Homo sapiens: one gene and its partners. The protein of the gene in region 4 purifies or fractionates together with the protein of the main gene of each other region. This does not show direct contact. Each region holds a gene or a part of one and is shown on either strand. Other genes may lie near its edges.

What was found. The genes of interacting proteins can lie anywhere in the genome.
Region 1: the proteins of PPP2R1B (region 4) and MARCHF1 purify together in Homo sapiens (affinity purification with mass spectrometry, with the first as the bait; one study listed by BioGRID). This does not show direct contact.
Region 2: the proteins of PPP2R1B (region 4) and PDCD4 fractionate together in Homo sapiens (co-fractionation; one large-scale study listed by BioGRID). This does not show direct contact.
Region 3: the proteins of PPP2R1B (region 4) and MAP3K3 purify together in Homo sapiens (tandem affinity purification; one large-scale study listed by IntAct). This does not show direct contact.

What each region holds. Positions count from the first base shown.
Region 1 is NC_000004.12:163,523,747-163,527,927, forward strand, and holds the end of MARCHF1 (E3 ubiquitin-protein ligase MARCHF1), read right to left. Parts: 3' UTR 972-4,181; downstream 1-971. UniProt on the Homo sapiens protein: E3 ubiquitin-protein ligase that mediates ubiquitination of TFRC, CD86, FAS and MHC class II proteins, such as HLA-DR alpha and beta, and promotes their subsequent endocytosis and sorting to lysosomes via multivesicular bodies.
Region 2 is NC_000010.11:110,888,020-110,892,898, reverse strand, and holds part of PDCD4 (programmed cell death protein 4), read right to left. Parts: intron 3,367-4,879; coding exon 3,269-3,366; intron 2,344-3,268; coding exon 2,229-2,343; intron 1-2,228. UniProt on the Homo sapiens protein: Inhibits translation initiation and cap-dependent translation. May excert its function by hindering the interaction between EIF4A1 and EIF4G. Inhibits the helicase activity of EIF4A. Modulates the activation of JUN kinase.
Region 3 is NC_000017.11:63,680,509-63,685,387, reverse strand, and holds part of MAP3K3 (mitogen-activated protein kinase kinase kinase 3), read right to left. Parts: intron 3,623-4,879; coding exon 3,489-3,622; intron 3,053-3,488; exon of another isoform or gene 2,630-3,052; intron 1-2,629. UniProt on the Homo sapiens protein: Component of a protein kinase signal transduction cascade. Mediates activation of the NF-kappa-B, AP1 and DDIT3 transcriptional regulators.
Region 4 is NC_000011.10:111,748,042-111,752,920, forward strand, and holds part of PPP2R1B (serine/threonine-protein phosphatase 2A 65 kDa regulatory subunit A beta isoform), read right to left. Parts: intron 4,292-4,879; coding exon 4,118-4,291; intron 1-4,117. UniProt on the Homo sapiens protein: The PR65 subunit of protein phosphatase 2A serves as a scaffolding molecule to coordinate the assembly of the catalytic subunit and a variable regulatory B subunit.

The sequences.
Region 1 (4,181 bases), on a different chromosome or scaffold from region 4:
GTATACATAGGTTATATGCAAATACTACACCATTTTTATATCAGGGATTTGAGCATCCATGAATTCTGGTATCTGAAGGAGGTCCTGGGACCAGTCCTCCACACATACTGGGGGGATGACTGTAATAAAACAGTCTTACAAGGGCCTGTTTCTCTACTGGCCGAATCCATCAGCCTTTGCTTGACATTTCCCATTCGGGATTTTGGTACTTACCATTCCCTCTTCCTGCGTTGCCATTCCCCTGAGCTTTTGCAAGGCCAACAATAACTGATTGTTCTCTCTTCCTTTAGGTCTGAGCTTAAAAGTGTTCTCTCTATCTAAAGCATCTCTACCCCCACACCCTTGCTACTCTTGGTTAATCTCTATCACAGCACCCAGTTTAGGATCACTGGACACATAATGACAGTGATTAATGATCTAGGAATGTTTGCTATAATTTCTGGTGGTGAGGGAGGGTGTTAAGTTCAGATTTCCATTTTGGGCAGAGGAGTTGGCTCATATAATTAGCAGACTGGTAGAAAGCCCTGTAGGTCCTTAGAAGTTGGACATTTGGAAACAGCTTTGTTTTTTGCTATCACCAAACCTCTTAGATTCTAATATCTTGCTTTTAATGTTTATTATCCATGCAATTATCTGAATCCACTATTATCTCTGAACAGAAAAATGCTGTTATATGCTTATTTTTCTATATCCAAGACTTATTCTTGAGACAGTCCCGCTTTAGATTACATTGTGATTTCTCTTGAACTCTTTTTTTAAAGCAGGTTTGAAAGTCCACATAGTTTATTTTCATTGGTTTCCCTCTGTTTGTGTATTTATTTATTTGTACCATGTCATGAGTTAGTCAACGTAGGTTTGCTTTAAAATAATTATATGTTCAGACCCTTGTAAAATCTTAAAAAATGTATGTGTGTTTGGATGTTGCAAATACAAATATCAGTCTGTTAGGCAAAAATTGTGGAAACCACAACTAAGGTTTGCGTCACTTGTTTAATATACAAAGTCTTTCACAGATAATTATTTTCTTTTTCTTAATTTGCTTTAGTACACATGATTCACAAAACAGTAAATTGTTAATGCAAGAGAATTATGTAAAACCAAAATAGTACAAATGCCTAATTTCAAAAACTGCACACAGTTAAAATAATTTTTCCTTCTTTGTTTTAATGCAGTATCCAGTTTCAAAATGGGCTTTCTTTAGATGTGGAGGAAACACTGCAGCCCAAAATAACAGTACTTCCTTTCAACTGTGTTGATATGTAAAATAGCACCATTGGGCTGACTTAGGAAAGAAAAAAGGTTTTCATCTTTCTTAATTAAAGTATTATATAACAACTATAATAATAATGATACTAATAACTTTTAAGAGCTGTACTCTGTTCTATAATATTCATTTTCAAGGCAAGGAAGGGTAAACTATATGGGGCAGATAGAAAAATCTTCCCACCTCAGCCCCAGGACCCTTATAATGTCCCTTAATGGTGTCATTGTTCTAATGAGCTAATTTTCCTGCCAAAGAATAGATGTTTTAAAGAGTACCCAAGGACCTTTTGTAAAACAAGATAAAAAACCATGAGGTCGTCTGTCTGGGACTATAATCACGTGTAGAAGCAGCGCAGAGTGAGATTTAATGCTGGGGTGTTTTGAAAGACTCCTTCAGTCTACACCTATCTTCCTTCAGGTTACACATTGCTGTATCTCAGGTTGTTGGGCTCACTTTAGTTTAGATTTTGTTCATTTTTATTTTGTTTTTGTACTTAAGCTTAATTGCCTTTTGGGCTTTACTTTTTAAAAAATTGGAATTTCTTTCTTTTACAATTTAATCTTTACTCCTGTACGATAAGAGTGATAGTTCTTTAAAAAAATTAACAGCATCAATGTCTGGTTTAATACTGAAGATTCATGATTATAAAGAGCCAAGGTTTTTAACACAACTGTAATTTCATTCTTCAATTTTAGTCCTTTTTTTTTCAATTCCATTTTATTTCTTCCACGAGCAGGTAAACATGCCTCAAAATTTGCATTCCGTAGAGCAGTTTTTCTTTTTGAAGGGTATAGTCAGTCAGTCTACAAAAAAGCACTGCCACAAAGCTAAATCGTTTTATTGTTTGAAAGGGCAAATGTTCCATTGCCACACAGAATGTAAAAAGAAAATAATCAACATTAGATTTTAAATGCAGGTAGTTATTTCAGATGTTTGAACCATAAACAAACAACCATTGCTGAAAAGCTTCTTAAAAGCTTGAAATTCAGAACTTCAGGGTTTCAAAAAGTCAGAAGAATAGCAAAATCAAGTGTTGACTTTTAACCTGCCAGGAAGCTATATTATATTATTTTCTCATTTCAACAATGTCCAAGCCCATAAAAGTTAATTGCAAGAATTTAGGTATAGTTTTAAAATCCCATGTCCTCTTTTACTATTAATAGAATAATGCTTACCTTTGCTTTTTATTCTAGAAATGTTTTCTTAGTGTTAAAAGTGTAGCCCTTAATAAATGAGGCTTTATTTTAGCCGATCATCCTCCACTGTGAAATCAGCCCTGCAACGTATCTTGTTTAGGTTCGTACAGAATTTAAACAATATTTTCCATGTTAATTAAAGTAAATAATTATTTTACTTTCAGAGCAAACAAAAGAGAAATCAACATTTCTTTGTTTGCTGGTGTCTGGATGTTTTTCCCCGGGAATATCTGTAAGCAGCATGTTGCCATTACTAACCCACAGGGAAAATGGATTAGTAAAAAGCTTAGGACAATTAACAGGAAAATTGCATTAAGGTTAATCCCTTGGATATGGTGCCATGGTTAAATCACCCACAGATTTGTTATTCATAAATGTATTTATCTTAAATATTTAAAATGGGCATTTAAGAGGAATTTAATATACAGTTTGTTTAAGGTCCACATGTTTTTTAAAACGTTAATTACTTATATCCTTATTTATACAGAATTTTTGGTTCAGTTTAGTTACCTCAACTTTGCTTTCCCTGTGCTTATAACAAGTTTTAAGAAAGATGAGTTTTAAACCTTTTGTTTCCTGACTGAATACCTTAACATTTTCCCCGCATATATACATGACTACACACACGCCATACACACACACAAAATTGACATTGTTTACCTTTTGTTTATTTCTAGGAATCAAGACTATCTGGACTCAGTGTCAGCCACTACTAATATTTATACCATCTTTCTCCTCATTTAAAGGTTTGTTTTTTTTTTCCCTTTTTCCTATGATCTGTGAAGAACAAGCACACTGATAATTACAAAGTGCATCCATGTGATACCCAGATTTGTGCAGTGTGATACTCATGCTTTGGTTCTTATGGCCATCATTGCCTTTTCATGTTAATAAATAATGACAGCTAACAAAAATAAGTCACCTTTTTTAATGTAGGACATCTTTCTTTGACAGGCTACTGTATCTATAATCACCGTTAATCTAGCTCACTGCAATGTCATTCACACATCAGTTTTACATGAATATGCAAAGAACACAATAATCAACTGTCAAACCTAAACGATTAATTACTTATCACAGAATCTGTTGAATATTTTTGTTTTCTAACTGAGCAAGGGAAATCCTGTCAGCTTTTAAAAGTAAGGGCTAGATTCTTAGTCATAATTACTCATCATCTGTCAAGTTGACACCTCATATGGATGAAATAAGCCTTACACATTTGATTTAATAACAAAAATAGGTAATTTTATTCCCCTATTGTAAGTACTTCATAGTAACAATTTATTTATTTCACAACTCTGCTATAGGCAGATTGATTGTTTTATCTTTCTATACTTTTGGATTTTTACCCTTTAGAGATGTGAACTTCATCTGACTTTAAAATGAGGACACTTAATTTAATGCTTTTAAAAATCATAACTAACTTTTGTGACTTTGAAATAAAAGAATGAATTAAACTGTTTTGAAATACTCAACAACTGTTAAATAAAGCAGAAGCTTAGTCTCTAATTTTACGGCTGTGCTATCCAATATAGTTAATTCAAGTTGAAGTGTACTTTTAAATTACCAACTGGATTTTGAAAACTTGGTTCAAGAAACAGATGTAAACTATCAATCAATCAATCAATTTTTTATATTGATGACATGTTGAAATAACATATAGTGTTTTTAAAAAATCAAAATTCATTTTAACAAACAAACATTTATTTTTACTTTTTAAA
Region 2 (4,879 bases), on a different chromosome or scaffold from region 4:
GATACACCTGTATAGAGCACTCAATATGAATAGAGCTTTCAGGATGGAAGTTACTCTGGGTGATTCAATGAGTGAGTGGTTAGTGAATGTAAAGGCCTAAGACATTACCCATACACTGGCTATGCACTTTATAAACACTGTATACTTAGGCTACATTAAATTTATGAAAAAATAAAGTAACTGTGCTACAACATTACAACTGCCTCCATATCACTCAACGATAGGAATTTTTCAGCTCCGTTATAACCTTATGGGACCACCACCATCCCACACAGTCCATCACTGACCAAAACATCATAATGTGGCACGTGACTGTACTTGTTATTCAAATTATATTACTTACTTTTAACATTTGTTACATAACTTTAGAAGTATTAAAAATATCCCCCATCAAATTCCATGCACTTCTGAGAATGATAAATTACAAATACATTTATACATTTCTAAAAGTCTTCTTTGATCCAACCCTTCCATGTAAGCAAATATCCAAATAATGTCAACCTCAAACTCATATACTGGCAGTTTTATTTCCATTTTTATCTTGTCAATTTTCTTTATTGAGAGAGAATTCACACACCATAAAACAGCTTGTCCAGTTTCCAAAAATATTAATTTTGGAGAGTATTACCATCTTAACAATATTAAGTATCCTCATCCATAACCATGGGATATCATTCTATTTATTTAGGTCTTCCTTAATTTCTTTCAACCTGTTTTGCAGTTTTCAGTGTACAAGACTTGCATTTGTCTTGTTAAATTTATTCCTAAGTATTTTATTTTTGATGCTATCACAAATGCAATAATTGCATTTCAGATCATTCATTTCTACTGTATAGAGAATTGAATTTTGTGTACTGATCTTTTATCTTGCAACCTTTCTGAACTCATTTTTTAGTTAATAGTTTGGTTTCAGTTTTGGGGAGTTAAAAAATGTGGATTCATTCAAATTTTCTGTATACAGATCATGTTATCTGGGAATACAACTAGTTTTATCTCCTCCTTTCCAATCTGGATGCCTTTTATCTTTCCTGCCTAATTGCCCTGGCATCTTGACTATTTTTATACCTCAATTTTTCTAATAATTGTTTAATTTTTAAAAAACAGATACTGCAATCACGACATTACAAACACTGACTCATCTATTTTAACATATATAAAAGCAAAAACAGTCAAGGCTCTAACTACAATTTGAACTCCTTAACACTTAAGCTAGATACACATACACAAACACACACACACACCTCATTAAAAGACTTACTAAAAATCAAAATTGTAGTTACATGAAAAGATTATACTCAAAAATCAGAAGCACATGAACTACAAATCTTCTAGTTGCATGCCTTTTCTTAAAGAGATCTGCAGATAAGGAGTTTTTTCTGTTTTTTGGTTTCTTGTTATAGGACACCACATTGCAGCCAGAAAAAAAAAAAATCCATAGGGAATAAATCTGGCATTTTAATGCAATAAATCGCTTTTTTTTTTTTTTTTTTTTGAGACAGAGTCTTGCTCTGTCACCCATGCTGGAGTGCAGTGGTGTGATCTCAGCTCACTGCAACCTCCTCCTCCTGGGTTCAAGCAATACTGGTGCCTCAGCCTCCCGAGTAGCTGGGATTACAGGTGCGCACCACCATGCCTGGCTAATTATTATGTATTTTTAGTAGAAACGGGGTTTCACCATGTTGACCAGGCTGGTCTCAAACTCCTGGCCTCAAGCAATCCACCCGCCTCAGCCTCTCAAAGTGCTGGGATTACAATCAATTTTCTTTTAAAACATGCATATGGGTAGTGAATGTCCTCACAAAAATCTAACACTCTGATCTGCTCTAGTGCTCATAATTCATAACTCATTATTTAAGACTATCTAGTTTTAAATTGCTCATATAAAAGCGTATTTATTGAATAGCTAAAACACAGAAAATCTCATTTCAACAGCATTTGAAAATTATTAAATAATACTATAAGAAAAAGATTTCAGGCATTCCTTTGAAGTTCATAGATGGCTTGCTTATAATTATTCATGAAAGCCATTTTAACAGACTCATTTTTTAATCATATAATTTATAATAAAAGGTTATAAAGCCACATATTAAAAAAATTATTTCATTTTCCAATTGCAGCTGTAAGACCGAACTTAATTTTTGTCCATAAAAATACCAGCTAGTAGCCACAATTTATTTCACTCAGAGGAATACATATAAATTAAGTTAAAAACAATACCCAATCATTACCTCTTTAACAAGGTGATTGACAGATTGCTGCCCACCTCCAGAGCCCCACACACTATCTTTACGCTTTCCACCTTTAGACATACTCAGAAGCACGGTAGCCTTATCCAGAGCAGCTCTACAGAGAAAGAAAAAAATTTAAGTTTGATAGCTGGACATACCTAAAGTTTACTAAATTAGGGATAAAGCTGACAAAATCCTATATGCCCTAAATCTTTCACATAACATAAAAGCAAAATAAAATTCAAAACACTTTTTCAAAACAAAAAGGAGCAAAAAGAAGTTGATCCTCATGTTAATATTCTCATGCTCTATTTCATTTCTCATTCAAGAAAAATCAAAACACATTACAAAATAACTGATCTACACTGAGAAGAAACACTTCACATATAATTAACTTTCACCTAGATCCATGCCTTCCTACCCAGGGACACCATTCCACTATGATGTGAAGTAGCCCTAGAAAATTAAGTTAATATATAGACCTGAGGAAAACTAAGACATGGCTGAGTCCAAGTCTCCAAGAAGTTAAGAAAAATCAAATAGCATAACTCCCAAATATCACATTTAGTTATACCAAATATCATATTAATTATACTAAATCACAAGAGTGAAAAAGATACTTTCTGACTAAGATTTCTACAGTAGATAAATACAAAATAAAACTATAAATCAGGCCTCTCTTCTTAAGGTTATCCATCTTATTAGAATATTAAACTATTACACAATGCTAGAACCTGAAAACAGAACTTAAAGATCTGTCCAATGGTTTTGTTTCATAAATAAAGAAACTGAGGCCCAAAGAAGAGTGGCTTGACATGAAGGTAATTAATGATTTAGCTAAACTCCAGAACTTTTCCATTATAGTACTGTCCTCTTCCTGGTATATCATGCCAATAGTCTCTCCATTTTAACAGTGGAGAATATAGAGAAGTGACAAACAGATGTACAGAGTGTCTGATTAACACAAGTGTCATTTCAATAGGATCCTGTAGAATTTTCCCCTATTTTGAAATTCTAAGTAGGAAAAGTGATTTACTTACCTAGCCTGCACACAATCTACAGTTCCTTTGTAACTATCAATATAGGTATTACATAAAATTCCATCTCCAACAGCTCTAGCAATAAACTGGCCCACCAACTGTAAAAAGGAAAAAAAAAAGAGCTATAAAAAAAGTTAAATAACTTTTATAGGTCACAATTTCTAAATACATAAATGATGAAGATTAGCTGAAGTACACAGTCAGTACCTAAAAGATGCTGGAATTTTTTTTTAAAAAAAAACCTATGTAGTACCTGTTATGCCTGGCATACACTCCCACATCTTAACCTTCAAGTTAAGTGCCAGAGTGGGGGCCACATCTGTTTTGCTCACTAATGAATCCCTAACACCTTGCACACTGCCTGAATACATAGCATATGATCAAATTTTTTTTTTTTTTTTTTTTTTTTGAGACAGAGTCTCGCTCTGTCGCCCAGGCTGGAGTGCAGTGGCACGATCTCAGTTCACTGCAACCTCCACCTCCCAGGTTCAAGTGATTCTTCTCCCTCAGCCTCCCGAGTGGCTGGGACTACAGGCGCACACCTGGCTAATTTTTGTATTTCTAGTAGAGACGGGGTGTCACCATCTTGGCCAGGCTGGTCTCGAACTCCTGACCTCGTGATCCGCCTGCCTCGGCCTCCCAAAGTGCTGGGGTTAAACGAATGATTTAAGGTCAAGTGACGTCCTCTCTTCTTAAAACAAAACAAAAAAAAAGGACTAGGTTCTCTCAAAAACTAATCAAAGGAATTTATCTTGTGGAGAAAAAAAGTTGTATAGAAATAGTTGAAAGTATGTTCACAGCATTACTTATTATAAAAACTGGAAATTGGTGTCCAAAAATAAAGGTATGGTTAAATGGTATACACATAAAATGGTATACTATGTGGCCACAGGGAAAGATATTTACCATATTTTATGGTATGAGAAAAATCAAGTTTATAAAATAGCATAATGGTATGATTCCATTTTTTTAATTTTAAAAAATTAAGGATTTATAGAAGCCATACATTGATATATACCCACAGAAAGGAGAATGGAAAACTTAACACCAGTAGCAGTTTTTGCTGGCCTTTCTTCTTTCTGGCTTTTATTTTTCAAAAATTCTACAATAAATATAAACTTATGTAATCATTTTCTTAAAGTATGTGTATTGGTATAAAAGGAAAAAATGTCTGCATTAGAATCACCACTTAATATCTCATACCGAGTATTGTCTGTCATTAAGTTTAACAGAAACAGCATTTAGGAACTGACATGCCTATATTCTATTTCTAAATTAATGTTTTAAGTAAAGTGATTTTACCTTGATTAAAAACTTTTGACAATAGCAACAATTTCACATTTTCAAAGCTACAAAAGGGAAGAGTCTTATTTATGACTTCTTATAATAAACATTAGTGAAGCATTCAATCATAACCTACATTTTTTAAAAATCTTAGCTAATAAAACAACTACATATAACAAAGACTATATATATGGCAAAAAAAAAAAAATTACCTAAAAACTATGCAGATCATAGGGGAAAAGTACAAGATAACATTAAATTTATAGCATGATGAAGACCATGTTTAAAAAACAAAAGAACTAGGAAAAAATACATCAAAATGCTAGC
Region 3 (4,879 bases), on a different chromosome or scaffold from region 4:
CAATGGGAAGAATAGTTAGAAAGGTACCATCCTCCCCCTTAGTTTGAAAGGCAAGTTTCCAGGAGGGAGAAAAATGCTTGGCTGGCATCCCAAGGAGCTCTGGCAGGAGAGCAAAGCAGAGGCTCTGCTTTTCTTGTTGGCATGTTCTTGGCTCATTAACACTGGAGCCTGGCGCTGGAGATGGTACTACCCTGCTGAGCCTTCCAGTGAGTTCGGGTGGGACCTTAATGCTTCTGTTTACACTCCATAATTTATAATTTACAAAGACAAGGATTGCCTCATTTCACAGATGAGCACTACAGGCCTAGAAAGGTTAGGAGACTTGTCTAAAGTCATAAAACTAGTTAGTGCACAGCTGATACCAGAACAAAAATGTCCCAGTTCCTGGTCCAATGCAGAGGTAATAGATATCTAAATATAATAAAATATTTCTCTGGCCCCTGGTCAAATGCAGCAACAAAAGGCCTTTGGAATCCCTTTTTCTCCAATCAATGTCCTGAAGGTCCTCCCTTTCATTTTCTCTGCACAAAAGTTGGGGTGGGGTCTTCAATTTCAGAATATTCATTATCCGAGCTCCAACATTAAACATTACATAGGGGCCAGACTTGGTGGCTCATGCCTGTAATCCTAGCACTTTGGGAGCCGAGAGGGAAGGATCACTTGCACTCAGGAGTTCAAGACCAGCCTGGGCAACATAGTGAGATCTTGTTTCTGTTTAAATATTTTTTTAATTAATTTTAAAAAATTACATAGGGAAACAAAGTATCAGAATTATGAAAATTCACTAACGACCTCCATAAAATTAGTTTCCAACTCAAATATTTTTTCCCATTTAATACCAGGGTCCATCCCCACCCATAATTTCAAATGCTTTAAGTCATGTTGTCACACATGATTTTTTAAAATCTGCCAATCAAGGCAAATTAATTGCAAAGTAAAACTGCAAATGTTGCTAAGGATATAGGATAGCCAAAGTGGATGAAACCAACATCGGAGAGAATTGCTTTAAATCCATCAGATGCATATTTGGCAAATTTAGACTAGTTAACAGAAAAAGACAAAATGGACAAATAAATAACATGGCAGGTGTGGTGGAGGAAGAATACCAAAGATTCACAAGAGGCCTTGGGGAAAACTGCTGAGTCCTGTGAACGCTCTTGTAAAAAATGACGTTCTTTATGGTTAGAAGTCAAGCAGGGAGTGAAGGACGTTACATTGTGCTAGCATTTTGTTGTTGGTGCTGTTGTTCGAGACAGGGTCTCATTCTGTCACCTAAGCTGGAGTGCAATTCACTGCAGCCTGGGCTCAAGTGATCCTCCCACCTCAGCCTCCCGAGTAGCTGGGACTACAGGCAGGTGTGCCACTATGCCCAGCTAATTAAATTTTTTTTTTTTGTAGAGACAGGGTTTTGCTATGTTGCCCAGGCTGGTCTTGAACTCCTGACCTCAAGCAATCCTCCTGCCTTGGCCTCCCAAAGTGCTGGGATTACAGCTATGAGCCACTGCGACCGGACTGACATAATTTTTGTTGGAAAAATTAGGCCAAAAAATTAACATGAATCATGCTTTGCTCATTCTAAAAATTAGTAAATAGATGCAATTATTGCTTAAACCTGATTAAAGAAAAAACAAAACTTATCATATTTTCACTTTTCAGTAAAGTCACACTGGAATATTCTTTTATTACATACTATGCAGTGTTCGTTCCTGTTAAGCAGATTGATCTCAAATGGCCTGTTACCAGGAGCAATTCTCTTCAGCTAAAGAGGCAGGCGCTGGGGGAGGACCTTGGCAATCCCCAACCACTGCCTTCCTTGGCCTCTTTCTAAAAGTCTGTCCTCACTGGGAGTCAAATCCTCCCAGGCCTTCCAGGGCCATGCAGGCAAAGTAAAAAAGTGAAGGGGGCAGAGTATAGGACCATGGCGAGGGACATAGACTGAGGGCAATCAAGCTCATCTGCAATCTCTGGGATTTTACACCCAAGTCACCCCTAGAACAGCTGATGTCCAGAAGTGCCCTGGTTAGAGAAACCAGAAAGGATGGTCAGTAAAATGCCCAAAAAGGAAATCTGCAGCTAATGGCACTCCAGGTCACTACTCCAAACATGAATTTATCTGGAAGGCAGGAGTATAGAAGGAAGAAGAGTACAAAGGGCTTCTCATAGCCTACATAGTTTGAATAATGAAAGAAAAGTTACAAGAATCAGCTTTTTATAAGATCTCCCATGTGACAGCACAGGCCCTTCTGTTGGACATTTTCCCCTTAAGAAATTTCCCCTTCTCAGGCCAAGCCCAGAAAGTGTAAGAGCAGCCTTTTCTTTTACATCAAAGCAAGTTTATTGAAAAGACCAGAATGAAGCTAGAGATCTCATGCTTGGTGAGTTCACTAAGCCAAATTGCCATTTGCATCAAGTAAGCCACCAATTTAAAAGCTAGCCACTAAAATGGCTGAGCCACTGTGGTAGACACACCCTAAGGTGATTGCTCCCTCTTCCAATTAGTCCCAATGAACTGCCTTTCCCTTTAGTGCAAGTAGAACCTGTGACGTGAGTCTAGCCAATAGACTATGGCAAAGAGGATAGAATATTCATTCCTATGATTATGTGATGTTTTATGACTCCATCTTTGCAGATTGGAGCAAAAGATTCTCCTGCTGGCTTTGAAGAAGCTGCCATGTTGTGAGAGGGCCCCATGGCAAGGAACTGCAGGTGGCCTCTAGGAAGGGAACTCAGAGAAGCCCTTGGGTGACATTCAGAAGAAAAGAGGAACCACAGTCCTACAGCCACAAAAAAACTGAATTCTGGCAACAACCATCTGAGCTTAGAAAAGAGCCTCAAACTCAAGAAAGGCAGGCAGCCTGGCTGACACCTTGATCGCAGTCTTGTGTGACCCTCAGCAGAGGACCCATTTGAGTCATGCCTGGACTCCTCACCCAGGGAAACTGGAAAATGATAAATGTATATTGTTTTAAGCCTCTAGGTTTGTGGTAATTTGTTATGGAGCAATAGATAACTAATACAACTGTCTACCATCATAAATGATCAGCCTAACCAATCCTACAGTGTAATTTTGATATGGTTTACTCCTTACCTTTCATCAAGAAACAGCAAAACTAAAATATATCCAATGAAAAACATAACCTGTCACTTTAGAACCAGTCGTATGTTAAAACACTACTGAAATGAGCTGGGCGTGGTGGTGCCTGCCTGTAGGAACAATGAGAGGACCACGATGAAGAAAAATCTGTTAAATCCTCACCCAACAACAAGGAAACTATGTAGTTTAGATCCTTTAGATCCCATCTTTGGCAGAAATTGTTATTTGGCCCTTAAAAAGGGACAATCCATATTTGGGCAGGCCTGGTTTATAAAAGAGCTTTCAAATGGGGTTCATGTCCCTCAGTTCTGCACTGTGACTACTAAGAACCCCTTGTTATGAGCTTGGTCTGCTGATACAGGCCACAGGCATATCCCAGCCCCCCTATACTCACGCACTGCTCGCTGGTCTCTGGGATGAACTCCCCCTCACTGTTGATGCTGGTGTAGGACCCCTGCCGGGCAATGTGCTGCTGCCGCTCAGGAACATAGCCAGGGGGAGGTGAGCTTCGGCCAGGGTTCTGGGAGCCTAGAGCACATAAAGGAGGCTTTCAACAACAGAGCCCAGGGTGTGTGGCCCAAGAGGAGCAGGCATGGGGCCAACTATTAGGCCCTAGAGGTCAGGAATGTGACTCAGATGGGTCATGGCACCAACGTCCAGCATGTGCCAGCTCCCTCAGGCAAACAAAGTCCCTTCCTAATAGGAAACAAACTCCAGAGATGGAGCAGGCACTACGGCATATCCGACCAAAAAAACCTTGACACAAAACAGAAACCAGAATAACCCCTAGGAGACCATTTTAGCTGGCAATCAGACTAGCTTTTAAAAAAATTCTTATATATAATTACTCCTTCATAATGTCACCTTCTCTCTTCCTCTAGAGCACTAATGCCATTTCCTCCCATCAGCTCAATACATCAGCTTAGTCCTCTTTAGTTTTGGGTCCAAGCAGTATTTTGAGGGTGGGGACCAGGGAAAGGTAACTGAATATACCTGTGCATCTCTCTCTGTTGCCCTGTTCCCCCAGCCAGTGTCTCCCCTTATTTGTTCTCTACTTGTATCAGGTAAAAAGGCCTTCGTGATGGTCTGGCCAGGATCAAAAGGCAGGCTTCTCCATTCCTACCCACTCCCACACTTCCTGGCTTATGAGTAATGATATTACCTTTTTTTTTTTTTTTTTTAAATTGAGACAGGGTCTCACTATGTTGCTCAGGTTGGTCTGAGTAATGATATTATCTTGCATTTATGTGGTGCTTTACTTTTTGTTACACATTCACAGTAATTAACCTCATTTGATTTTCAACATCTCTACAACAGAGGTTTGGCAAATATTTTTTGAGTGGCTGCTAAGTGGCAATCATTCCACAAGGTATTTTTACATTTGTTACTTCACTTAATCCTTTCAACAATCCTGAGAGGTAAGCATTTGCTTTACTTAACAGAGGAGGAGACGGAGACTCAAGGAACTTAAATCTTAAAAAAAAAAAAAACCCAAAACACCCAAAAACAATTATTTATGTTTTACAGATAAGAGACTATAAAACCAATTAACAGGTACTTTCACCACATCAGCTTGTAAGATGAAATGGTTTATCATCCTAATGTTAGTGAATGACAGAGGTGTGCAGTCTTACAAATGACACACTTTGTAAGTCACTGAGCAATGTTTTTCTGCCATAAGGGATTTTGAGTCCGAGAAATCAGGTCCTCCTTCCTCCTAGCCCAAGAGCTTTTTCTGACTGGCTGTGTTGCTTTCCATGATCAGAGAAGACAAAAATGAGGCCA
Region 4 (4,879 bases):
TACATTGCCAAAATTCAGAAATAAAGATGGTCTATTTACATTACACCAAGGTTACCTGAAGGCTAAAAAAACTTGTTTCCAAATAAACAAATAAGAGATAGAAACACCACAGGAATTACAAACAAACCATAAATCTATTTATTGGACGGAAATCATAAACAAAAAAAAAGCATACGTGAGCTGGCATAGGCCCTGCTAGGTAAAAGAGAACAGGGTGGCCAGAAGTCAGCCACAACACTGCAAAAGAGCAGGAAGAATGCACTGTGTATGGTCTGCCAAGCAAATCTGGATTACCTGTAAAAATGAATTACCCAGGAAAACACCTGTCAGTAATATTACTAATTCTCAATCGTCTTCCCTTTTTGGTTACTATTATGACAAATCCTTAAGGATAAAGCAACTGACCTCAAGACATAGAGATATCCCCAGTTAAAGAGAGTATTTTCGAGACAACAGGAGAAAGCCCTGGAGGGAGAATAAAGCAGGCCCAGGACTACAGGGCATATGGCCCAGGCATGGCTTGCTCTCCCAGCCCTGTTCCTCCCGACTGTCAACAGGTGGCCACTTCAGTGCAGGCTGGGGATGGGCTCCGGGAGCAGATTTACACAGTCCTCTAACCCCGGGGCTTCCACACCACATGGAGAATGCTGTGACACACTTTCCTAGTGCCTCCCTTCTGGGGTCTACACATTTACAGTCTTGCTTCTTTGAACTCTAAGAAGTTCCTGACTGGTGATTCTATATTTTAAAAAAAGAGAGGTAATATAATGTGTCAGTGCTTTGAAAATAGTGATTGAATAAGACAAAATAGCTTTTTTTTTTTGAGATGGAGTCTCACTCTATTGCCCAGGCTGGAGTACAGTGGCACAATCTCAGCTCACTGCAACCTCCACCTCCCGGGTTCAAGTGATTCTCCTGCCTCAGCCTCTCAAGTAGCTGGGATTACAGATATGCAGCACATGCCCAGCTAATTTTGTATTTTTAGTAGAGACAGGGTTTCACCATGTTGGCCAGGCTGGTCTCTTAACTCCTGACTCAGATGATCCGTCCGCCTCAGCCTCCCAAAGTGCTGGGATTACAGGCATGAGCCACCGCACCTGGCCCAAAATTGCTTTGTACTAAAAGATCATAATGAACAAATTTTGGCATACACTTAGATTACGTCAGCCAAGATTTCTTTTTCATTTCAGGTTGAGAATTTTCCTTCAGTTTTAATTAACTTTTATTTTCCAGTTTGTTGTTGTTGTTGTTGTTGTTGTCGAGACGGAATCTCTCTCTGTCGCCCAGGCTGGAGTACAGTGGTGCAATGTCAGCTCACTACAACCTCCGCCTCCTGGGTTCAAGCAATTCTCCTGCCTCAGCCTCCCAAGAAGCCTCCCAAGTAACAGGCACCCACCACCACACCCGGCTAAATTTTTTGTATAGTAGAGATGGGGTTTCACCATGTTGGTCAGGCTGGGCTCAAACTCCTGACCTCAGGTGATCCACCCACCTAGGCCTCCCAAAGTGCTGGGATTACAAGCGTGAGCCACTACGCCTGGCCTATTTTCCGGTTTTTGTAGTTTAACTTTACACTTACTTAACATCGTCCACAAGCCAGGTCATACATAAAGTCTTGAGAGAATTTTATAAAATGACTATCTGATATAAAAATATTTAGATATGAAGAGAAATTAAGGAGAATATATATACTAACAAGAAGTTAAAATTGTAAAGCAAAATGTTCATGACTGAGGCATGTCACCCCTGCCAGACAGGTGTAAGTCAGCCAAAGACACCATCTGCCTTGCTTTCACACTGCTCTCTATAGAGCTAGCAACCCTGGGAAACTTTCCAGGTCTAGAAGGAGCAGAGGTTAAAAGAAATGGTACTAAAATGCACCCTCCCTTCCAGATAGTTTTGGTCTTCAGCAAATCAGTTAATCACTGCTCCTCTCCACTCTGAAAAGTAGATCCATGACAATCACCAGTGAAGAGAAGATGACCCATAGCACTTGGGAGTGACAGACAAAAAGGATGACAAAATAACTTCACCTGATCCCATTTGCCATGCACTAATACCTCTGGTATACTTTTCAAAGAATCGGACACTTTCAATTTTATAAAACATATAATGCCACAGACATCCACAAATTGCATGTTCATAAACTAAATGTACTAAAATTAAAAATACAAATTCAGGGGTTCAAGACAAGAAAAAATAAATTCCATATGTTGTGACCTGAAAGGAATGGAAGTGGGAGTGAGGAAGGGGAAACAAACTGTAGCGATGTCAATAGTAAACTGACACATCTTTCTCAAAAAATACTCAACAATCAACAAATGTTGGCTATACACAGTGGCTCATGCCTATTATCAGCTACTCAGGAGGCCGAGGCAGGAGGATCATTTGAGGCCATGAGTTCAAGACCAGCCTGGGCAACAGCAAGACCCTGCCCCCAAAATAAAAAATGTTAAGTGCCTAATTAATGACGGGCACTATGGTAGGGACTGGAAATAAAATACAGTCCCTGCCCTAAAAGAGATCACCCATCTCTCCAACTAGACTGTAACAGACAATTACAATACTCTGTAATAAGTGCTACCAACAGAGATGAAGGTACATCAAACTTAGAACTGTCTAGGCCACCTACTCAAAAAAAGGAAAGGATGTGGCTATAAAACCCAGCTTTGAAATTTTAACTAACATGGTATTAGTTAGGGTAACACTGATCACGAAACTCAAACAGTAACAGATAATGTGATAATGTGGACTTTGACCAAAATACTAACATTACAAGCTTCAGTTTTTGTTTTTGTTTTGTTTTTTTTTTTTTGACACAAAGTTTTACTCTGTTGCCCAGGCTGCAGTGCAGTAGTGCAATCTTGGCTCACTGCAGCCTTCGCCTCCTGGGTTCAAGCGATTCTCCTGCCTCAGCCTCCCGAGTAGCTGGTATTACAGGTGTGCACCTCCGTGCCCAGCTAATTTTTGTATTTTTAGTAGAGATGGGGTTTCACCATGTTGGCCAGGCTGGTCTGGAACTCCTAGCCTCAAGTGATTCGCCTGCCTCTGGCTCCCAAAGTGCTGGGTTTACAGGTGTCAGCCACTGTGCCCGGCCTTTCAATACTTCTTTTCTATATGGTGATTCCTCAACTCCCTTTAATCAGAATGTAGGGCAAGTGGTACCTAGGGACATTTTGCTTAGAATACAAGGCAAACAGGGAAGTTTCCTTGAGCAAAAATCACAGCAGACTTACCCTAAAACCATAATCCCTTTTCTTCTCAGTTAAACATTTCTTAAGTCACAAAGGCATTAAATATTATAAAATTTACATTATATATACCAAGAAACTGATTATTCTATGGCTTTGTTTTTCGGTGGTGATGAGGTGAAATATGTTTCTGTAATACAGATTAAGCATCCCAAATCCAAAAATCCAAAATGTGAAATGCTCCAAAATCCAAAACTTTTTGAGCACTGATATGATGCTCAAAGGAAATGCTCATTGGAGCATTCTGGACTTTGCATTTTTGAATTTGGGCTGCTCAACCAGTAAATATTTATAATGCAAATATTCCAAAATCCACTTCTGGTCCCAAACATGCTGGTCCCAAGCGTATTTAGATGAGGGATACTCAACCTATACCTTTTTGTTAGAAATGTATGCACTAATAGGCCAGATGCAGTGGCTCACGCCTGGAATCCCAGCACTTTGGGAGGCTGAGGCGGGTGAATCACCTGAGGTCAGGAATTCAAGACCAGCCTGACCAACATGGTAAAACCCCATCTCTATTAAAAATACAAAATTAGCTGGGTGTGGTGGCATATTCCTGTAATCCCAGCTACTTGGGAGGCTGAGACAGGAGAATCGCTTAAACCCAGGAGGTGGAGGTTGCAGTGAGCCAAGATTGCATCATTGCACTCCAGCCTGGGCAACAACAGTGAAACTCCATCTTAAAAGAAAAGAAACGTATGCACTAACAAACATAAAAACCATCCTATAGGTAACAAGAACAAGGCCATACTTTCATGCATCTAAACAAACATAAGCATACAGGCTACTAGGCCTCCTACTTGCCATGGTAAATTGTCACTATCTGACACTACCCTGCAGTTCATGGAGCAACACATACTCACCAGCTGGCCTGCCAGCAGCGGCATATACTCAATGATGGCCAGGCGGACCCTCCATTTGGCATCTTCTGCCAGCTCCACTATGGCAGGAAGGAGAGACTGAGAGAGCTGACGGATTCCAATCACTTCATTTACACAATCCAAATTGGAGATGATATTCAAACGAACGTCAGGACACTGCAAGTACACAAGCCCCAAAAGACCACATTTAAAAATCAAGTACTCTGCCCAACAGTCTCCTGTCAGGGTAAGATAAAAGGTGAGGTAAGACTCAGGTGAAAAAAAAATGGATAATCTTGAAGAAATAATAGTGAATACATAAATAACTCAAGGAACATAAATGATCTTAATCAGAAATTTCAATTAAAAGTCCGTAATACTAAAGACTACAAGAAAAGTCCGTAAGATGGTAAAGAGCATAATCTCTGGAACTAAATCAGATGCACTCAAATTTCAGATCTGTCATTGTTGAAAGACCTTGCTCAAGTTACTTTAACCCTCTATGCCTCAGCTTTCTCATCTGTAAAATGGGATAATTGGCCGGGTGCGGTGGCTCACACCTGTAATCCCAGCACTTTGGGAGGCCGAGACGGGCAGATCACGAGGTCAGGAGATCGAGACCACAGTGAAACCCCGTCTCTACTAAAAATACAAAAAATTAGCTGGGTGCTGTGGCAGGCGCCTGTAGTCCCAGCTACTCAGGAGGCTGAGGCAAGAGAATGGCATCAACTCAGGAGGCGGAGCTTGCAGTGAGCAGAGATTGCG